Linked DNA regions of Homo sapiens. The protein of the gene in region 2 interacts with the protein of the main gene of each other region in a biochemical or structural test. Each region holds a gene or a part of one and is shown on either strand. Other genes may lie near its edges.

Region 1 (3,821 bases), on a different chromosome or scaffold from region 2:
TGTATATGTCTGTGTGTGTTTCTATGTATCTGTGTGTGTGTTTGTGTACTAGGTGTGTGTGTGTCTGTGTGCTGGGTGTATGTGTGTGTGTATGTGTGTCTGTGTACGTATCTGTATGCTAGGTGTGTGTGTGTGTCCGTGTATGTGTCTGCATGTGTGCCTGTGTGCTGGGTGTATGTGTATGCATGTGTGTGTGTGTGTCTGTGTATGTTATCTGTGTATGTTGACCTACAGGAATTGCTCCTTGTCCAGAGAACCTCAGATGAGCCTGTACTGGGTGACCGGGGGAGCAGGTTTCCCTCCAGCACAGCATCACATCTCTCCCCACTTCTGCCACTCACCTCGGAGAACATGGGCAGTTTTTTGGCAAAGTCCACCACACGGGTGATGGCCGGGGTGATGATCTTGGTAAACTCGCTGAAGGCTTCCAGGTCCACCTTGTCTCCGTCCGGCATGGAGACAATGGGTGACTGGCCAATGTCATCGGGCTAGAGAGAAAGACGGGGGTCAGCTGGGGCCGCAGACCCCTTTCAGCCTCTCACTGAGGCTCCCTGCCCACCAGGGGGAGCTCCAAGGCAGCTTGGGGAAGAGGGGCCGCCCGTGCCTGAGTCCCAGGCCCAAAGCTTTTCCTTCATCTTGAGCAGAGAATAGACCAGAACCAGAGCTCCAAGTCAGCTAATAATAACAACGGTAGTAACAGTAGTAGCAGCTATAATGACTGAATACTTAATATATGATCAGGCATCAGGCTACATGTTTTACATGTCTTATTTCATCCTGACCATAATCCTAAAAGGAATAATTATAATAATCACCATTTCACAGATGTGGAAACTGAGGCATGGGGCAGCTAAATAATAAGGTTAAAGTCATATGACCAGCAAGTGGTAGGACCAGGGTTTGAACTTGGGCAGTCTGACTCGTGACTGTTACACATCTGCTTGGAATCAGAGCCCGTGCCCTTAACAGTGTGCACTGTGCCACCCCCCGGCATGCTCCACCATGAACCAGGTGCTGGTTTTCTGCCTTCCTTCACCACGTATAGCCAACTGTCCATCTCCTCCCAAACTGATCATATTTTTTGAGAGAGGGTCTTGCTCTGTTGCCTGGGCTGGAGTGCAGCGGTGTAATCATGGCTTACTGCAGCCTCGACCTCCCAGGCTTAGGGGATCCTCCTGCCTCAGCCTCCCGAGTAGCTGGGACCACAGGCACACACCCCCATGCCCAGCTAATTTTAAAATTATTCGTAGAGAGGCCGGGAGCAGTAGCTCACACCTGTAATCCCAGCACTTTGGGAGGCCAAGGCAGGCAGATCACCTGAGGTTGCGAGTTCAGACAAGCCTGACCAACATGGAGAAACACCGTCTCTACTAAAAATACAAAATTAGCCGGGCGTGGTGGCGCACGCCTGTAATCCCAGCTATTTGGGAAGCTGAGGCAGGAGAATCGCTTGAAGCCGGGAGGTAGAGGTTGCGGTGAGCCAAGACTGTGCCACTGCACTCCAGCCTGGACAACAAGAGCGAAACTCCAACTCAAAAAAAAAAAAAAATTATTCATAGAGGGTGGGCATGGTGGCTCACATCTTGTAATCACAGCACTTTGGGAGGCCGAGGCGGGTGGATCACTTGAGGTCAGGAGTTCGAGACCAGCCTGGTCAACATGGTGAAACCCTGTCTCTACTAAAAACACAAAAATTAGCCAGGCATGGTGGCCAGTGCCTGTAATCCCAACTACTCGGGAGACGGAGGCGGGAGAATCGCTTGAACCCAGGAGGCGGAGGTTGCGGTGAGCCGAGATCGTGCCACTGCACTCTAGCCTGGGTGAGAGTGAGACTCCGTATCAAAAAAAAAAAAAATTATTCATAGAGGTGGGATCTCTGTATGTTACCCAGACTGGTCTCAAACTCCTGGGCTCAAGCGATCCTCCCACCTTGGTCTCACAAATTGCTGGGATTACAGGCATGAGCCACTGCACCTGGTCCCAAACTCATCATTTACTTAGCAACTAGCTTGACCAGGGCCTAACATAATGCCTGGCACCCAGCAGGTGCTCAAAAATACTGTGACATAACTGTATCCTTACCCTCTCCTCCCAGTCACTAAGGGCAGGAAAAAGAAGAAAGGTCGCTCCCGCTCCCTGGAAATTCGATGAGGAAGGCAAGGCCCTGTCCTCATTGAGCTCCCAGTTGGATGGAGTAGACAGTCCAGACAGCAAGGACACAAACACAAGTGTATAAAATCTGGACAGCAAAAGTGTGAAGAGTATGTATTTTGGGTTGGATTACACTAAGAAGACTTCCTGGAGGAGGCAAGACTCCGAGCTCACTCTCTTCTCCCTGCCACCTGGCTACTGCTCTCCCCATGCCCCCTTTCTCCTTACCAGGAATTTCCGCCTCTGTTTCCAATGGCTGCCCTGGGCATTGGTGCTGCGATGGGCCTCTGTGGCAATGTGGATCAGATCCCACTCTTCAGGAGTGGGCTCTGGTCGCTGCTGCAGTGATCGGATCATCTCCTCCTTCCGCCGCCGCTCCCGGTTCTGCTCAATCAGCTTACGCTTGGCCACCCGCTTCGAGTCATCTAGAACCACTGTGAACAGAGAGGCACAAGGTCTAACGCATGGCACCCTCCATCCCCTTTCCATAATGCTCCCGGAAACTACTCTTCCTAGAGTACAGGTTGGAGAAACCGAGGGCCATGGAGGCTAAATGACTTCCCAAATCACCTAGCAGTTGGGCAGCACAACCCGGATCATGATTAATCCCCGGGACCATGTCAACAACAGTTTGGGCTGATCCAGATGAATATCATGTTCTGGTCTAACGGATTATGGTGACGGTGGTTACTCGAATATCCTGCCACCCAATCCCCAGCCAATGGAAGATGCCCTGTCTCATCTAGAAGTGGGGTGCCTTCGCTGGGAGTCAAGAACAGTGTGCTAGAGTGGGTGCCCAGGAGCTCTTTCTACCAAACGACTCCCTCTCTAAGGCCCTCGAGTGTTGTAAGGCAGGTAGGCATTGGGGCCCACACAGGGATCCTGTTTCCTTTTGCGCAGGAAGGAGGACAGCAAGGACCAAGACACTGAACATTCTGACCTAGACTGGATTGCCACTCTGCCCTGTGGGCTCTGAGGGTACCCTGGAAGGAAGCTGCCCTCCCAGAACTCATCCCCACCCCAGGCCACCTGGCTCTATTCCCTCCACCTGGGCCCCTTACAGTCCATGGCCATGCCCACGGCGATGCACTTCTTGAAGCGGCACAGCTGGCACTGATTGCGGGTGATCTTGTCAATGACACAGCAGCTGTCATATTTGCAGGAATAGGTGGGATGGAGGTTCTTCTGGATTGTGCGGCGAAAGAAGCCCTGGGGTGGGGGAGATGGAGCAGGCTGTGATCATGACATGGCTTCCCCTTCCTGAACCAACCATGCAGTTTACTAGGGGTCAGGGGTGGAGAGCAAGGAAGGCAAGATCAGTGAGGGGACCTGGCATCCTCCTGACACCATGAGCCCAAGATTACTAGGCTCAAGGACCTGAGAAATATATGCCCTCAGCCCCCAGGCTGCTGAGGGGTTGGGGGTGTCTGGGTAGTGTTTGTGGCAGAGGCAGGAATGATGTCTAGAGCAGGCAGCTTTGAACCTGGGATAATGTGAGGCCTTAAGGAATAGCAGCTTTGGAAATCCAAGTCGCCGGGCGCGGTGGCGCACGCATGTAATCCCAACACTTTGGGAGGCCGAGGTGGGCAGATCAACTGAGGTCGGGAGTTCGAGACCAGCCTGACCAACATGAAGAAACCCTGTCTCTACTAAAAATAGAAAATTAGCCG
Region 2 (3,821 bases):
TACAGAATGCAGACTTTCTGCCTTTGGAATAGTCATACTGGCTGGGTGTAGTGGCTCATGCCTGTAATCCCAGCACTTTAGGAGGCCAAGGCAGGAGGATCCCTTCAGCCCAGGAGTTCAAGACCAGCCTGGGTAACATAGGGCGTCTCCCCCATCTCTATTAAAAATAAAAATCATTTAAAAATATAATAAATAACAAAAAGTCATACTGACAAAGAGTTTGGAGAGTGAGTTAATTTACATGTAGTATAAACCAGAGGTAATTTTGCACTTGTCAGTATGATCTAACAGGATTTCTATTATTAAACTTGTCTTCATCTCTTCTGATGTCCAGCCATTCAACGTCCCAGCATATCTTTCCATGTCCTTACTTTTCTCCTTTCCCAGCTTAGATTCCATGATCCATCACCATAATCACTCATTTACAAACACCTTTAACTCCGGTGGCTTGAAAGACATTAGATTATGTGTCCAATGTTCATAATCTTTTTATTTTTACTACTGTTGTAATATTCTAAAGGATTAAAATTAACTTGTAAAAACAAACAACCTATAATCCAACAAATTCATGCCTTCTACCAGATCCAAATTCACTAACAATTTTCTTTCTTTGTTGAGACAGGGTCTCGCTCTGTTAGGCTAGAGTGCAGTGGCATGATCTCAGCTCACCACAGCCTCCGCCTCCCAAGTAGCTGGGATTACAGGCGTGTGCTATCATGCCTGGTTAATTTTTGTATTTTTTGGTAGAGACGGGGTTTCACCATGTTGGCCAGGCTAGTCTCGAACTCCTGACCTCAAGTAATCTGTCTGCCTCAGCCTCCCAAAGTGCTGGGATTACAGGAGTGAGCCACTGCACCCGGCCAACAGTTTTCAACAGAGGCTAGTATAAATTTTGTGTCTACTTACATCCGGAAGAGAGGGAAGATTATAAGACCCTCCCACTGGTGAGCTCAAATCGATCATAGGTGAACCAAAAGCCTTTCCATCATATCCTGCTGCACTAGTAATCGTGGGGCTGGAAGGAGTAGAGGATGTGCTGTTGGTAGTTGATGGGGTTCCCTGTCCACTGCTGATCTGCCACTACAGTAACAAGAAGAGAAGAACAAAGGCTATCAACAAGCTTATAAAATACAACATCTATGTAATCACTCACACAAAATGAAGTAGAAGAGTTCAACTGTAATTTACATGGAAGGAGAATGGGACAGCAAAAGACTGCACAAGTATATATAATTTTCATTAATCTTGTCAAAAAAAAAAAAAAACCAAAACAGTAAAAAGCACTGATTTTTACTGGAAGACAACAGTTAGTATATACCAGAAAATCACAGTACCCAATCTTGGCAGGTTTATACATATTGGAAAAAAAATGTAAATATATACATAGCAACTTCAAGGTAAAGATGGAGGGTTGAAAACATACATTTCTTCTATCCCTATCTGAAATACTTGAAAATACTAAGCTACAGACTGGTACTTTCAGGATTTTATATTCCTCTTCTCATATATGAACAGATAATTAGGCCTCGATAAATATCTGAGGAAAGTACTATCATTCCTGCTGAGATAAACACATTAAGATGATGATAGGCATGCTGAAGTATATAGAGGTGAAGCATGCTGCTGTCTGGAATTTACTCAAAACCTATTGAAAAACATGATGGGCTGGGCATGGTGGCTCATGCCTGTAATCGCAGCACTTTGGGAGCCCAAGGTGGGTGGATAACTTGAGGTCAAGAGTTCAAGACCACCCTGGCCAACATGGTGAAACTCCATCTCTACTAAAACACAAAAATTAACCGGGCGTGGTGGTGGGCACCTGTAATCCCAGCTACTTGGGAGGCTGTGGCAGGAGAATCACTGGAACCCAGGAGGCAGAGGTTGCAGTGAGCCAAGATTGCACCAGTGCACTCCAGCCTGGGCTACAGAGAGAGAGATTCTGCCTCAAAAAAAAAAAAAAAAAGGATGACTTGATGAATGGACAAAGGAATAGATAAACATGTAATAAGGCAAGTAGAACAAAATGTTCCCTATATAATTCTTTCAATTTTTATTATGTTTGAAAATTTTCATGCTGGAAGAAGGAAAGTAACTAAGTGTACTGCAAGATGCCGTATTTTCCAAACATGGTCATTCACAAATGAACAGCACTATATAAAATGTCTGAAACATTCCAATTTTGAAAAACCTAATTTATATATTCCATTGTAGAAACTACATACAGAAACATATGAAGTTGGACATGAATGTCTTCTTTACCACCTACTCCTCCCTCATATTCCCCACCTCTATGCCCCCTTTCCTCCTCCTCTACCAAGAACAATCAGTTGGTGGATCGTTTCAGGTTTTTTTCTATGTACATGATGAGGCTGGAGGAAAACACACATACAAATGAGATAACACCTCACAAAAATTCTATAACATGCTTTTCCTCACGTACTCAGAAAATCATATCTAGATTACTGCATTTTCTTAATATCTGAAAAGTATTCCACTGTATGAGTATACTCTAATTTGTTAAACTCATCTACTACTTAAAAGCAATTTCCCAGTAGATTTTTTCCTGGCTTGTTCCTTTACTTATTCATTCATGTTTACATTTTTGGTCAACAACCATTTTAAAAAAACATGCTTAGAGTATCTACTCATTAAAATACAATAAATAGGGAAGAGGTAAACATTTGAATACTGAGCATGTGCTAGGTGCTTGTATATACATTAGAATAAACTCTCAACATAACTCTGCAAGATACGCATTTTATAGCTGAGGCAAGGGAGATGCGAAAAGACTACGTAAGTGCCACAAAATTATTAGGAAAATAAGTAGAATTTAAGGCCAAACTGAAGCTTGGGTCCTTTTTACTTTCCTTCTAATGATGAAATAATAGGTATGAATTTTATTTTAAATAATTAAAATATTGTTTAAGAGAATTTGGTGATGATATAGCAAAGGCAAATTGATTATACGAAGATATGTATAGACACAGAGTGTACATACTTTTAGAATAAAATATTAAAATGATTTTATTAAAATGGATGTTATAGAATTATGAAAATTGCATCATCTTTATTTTGGTCTTGGAGAAACCAAAATCAGTCTACAATCAGCTAGACAGGCTGTTGTCATAGGAGCTTTGAGAAGAAAAAACACTGTGATAACTTTAAGATAATGTAAAACACAGAAAATATTTTTACCTGAAGACACTAAGTATATAAATAATACAGCCGGGTATGGTGGCCCACACCTGTAATCCCAGCACTTTGGGAGGCTGAGGCGGGCATATCACTTGAGGCCAGGAGTTCGAGACTAGCCTGGCCAACATGGTGAAACCCTGTCTCTACTAAAAATACAAAAATTAGCCAGGCATGGTAGTGGGCGCCTGTAATCCCAGCTACTCTGGAGGCTGAGGCAGGAAAATTGCTTGAACCCGGAAGGCAGAGGTTGCAGTGAGCTGAGATCATGCCACTGTACTCTAGCCTGAGTGACAGAGAGAGACTTTAAAAAAAAAAAAAAAAAAAAAAAAAAAAAAGGAGGCCAGGTACGGTGGCTTACGAGTTTAGGAGATTGAGACCATCCTGGCTAACACGGTGAAACCCAGTCTCTACTAAAAATACAAAAAAAATTAGCTGGGCGTGGTGGCGAGTACCTGTAGTCTCAGCTACTCAGGAGGCTGAGGCAGGAGAAATGGTGTGAACCCAGGAGGCAGAGTTTGCAGTTAGCCCAGATTGCGCCACTGCACTCCAGCCTAGGCAACAGAGAGAGACTCTGTCTCAAAAAAAATAAAAAAATAAAAATAAATAAGCTGTATCATATTAAATAT

Evidence for each region.
Region 1: the proteins of TRIM24 (region 2) and THRA form a complex in vitro, tested with the Homo sapiens proteins (one study listed by BioGRID).

Annotation. Positions count from the first base shown.
Region 1 is NC_000017.11:40,083,374-40,087,194, reverse strand, and holds part of THRA (thyroid hormone receptor alpha), read right to left. Parts: intron 3,361-3,821; coding exon 3,213-3,360; intron 2,586-3,212; coding exon 2,380-2,585; intron 489-2,379; coding exon 342-488; intron 1-341.
Region 2 is NC_000007.14:138,568,089-138,571,909, reverse strand, and holds part of TRIM24 (transcription intermediary factor 1-alpha), read right to left. Parts: intron 1,081-3,821; coding exon 907-1,080; intron 1-906. UniProt on the Homo sapiens protein: Transcriptional coactivator that interacts with numerous nuclear receptors and coactivators and modulates the transcription of target genes.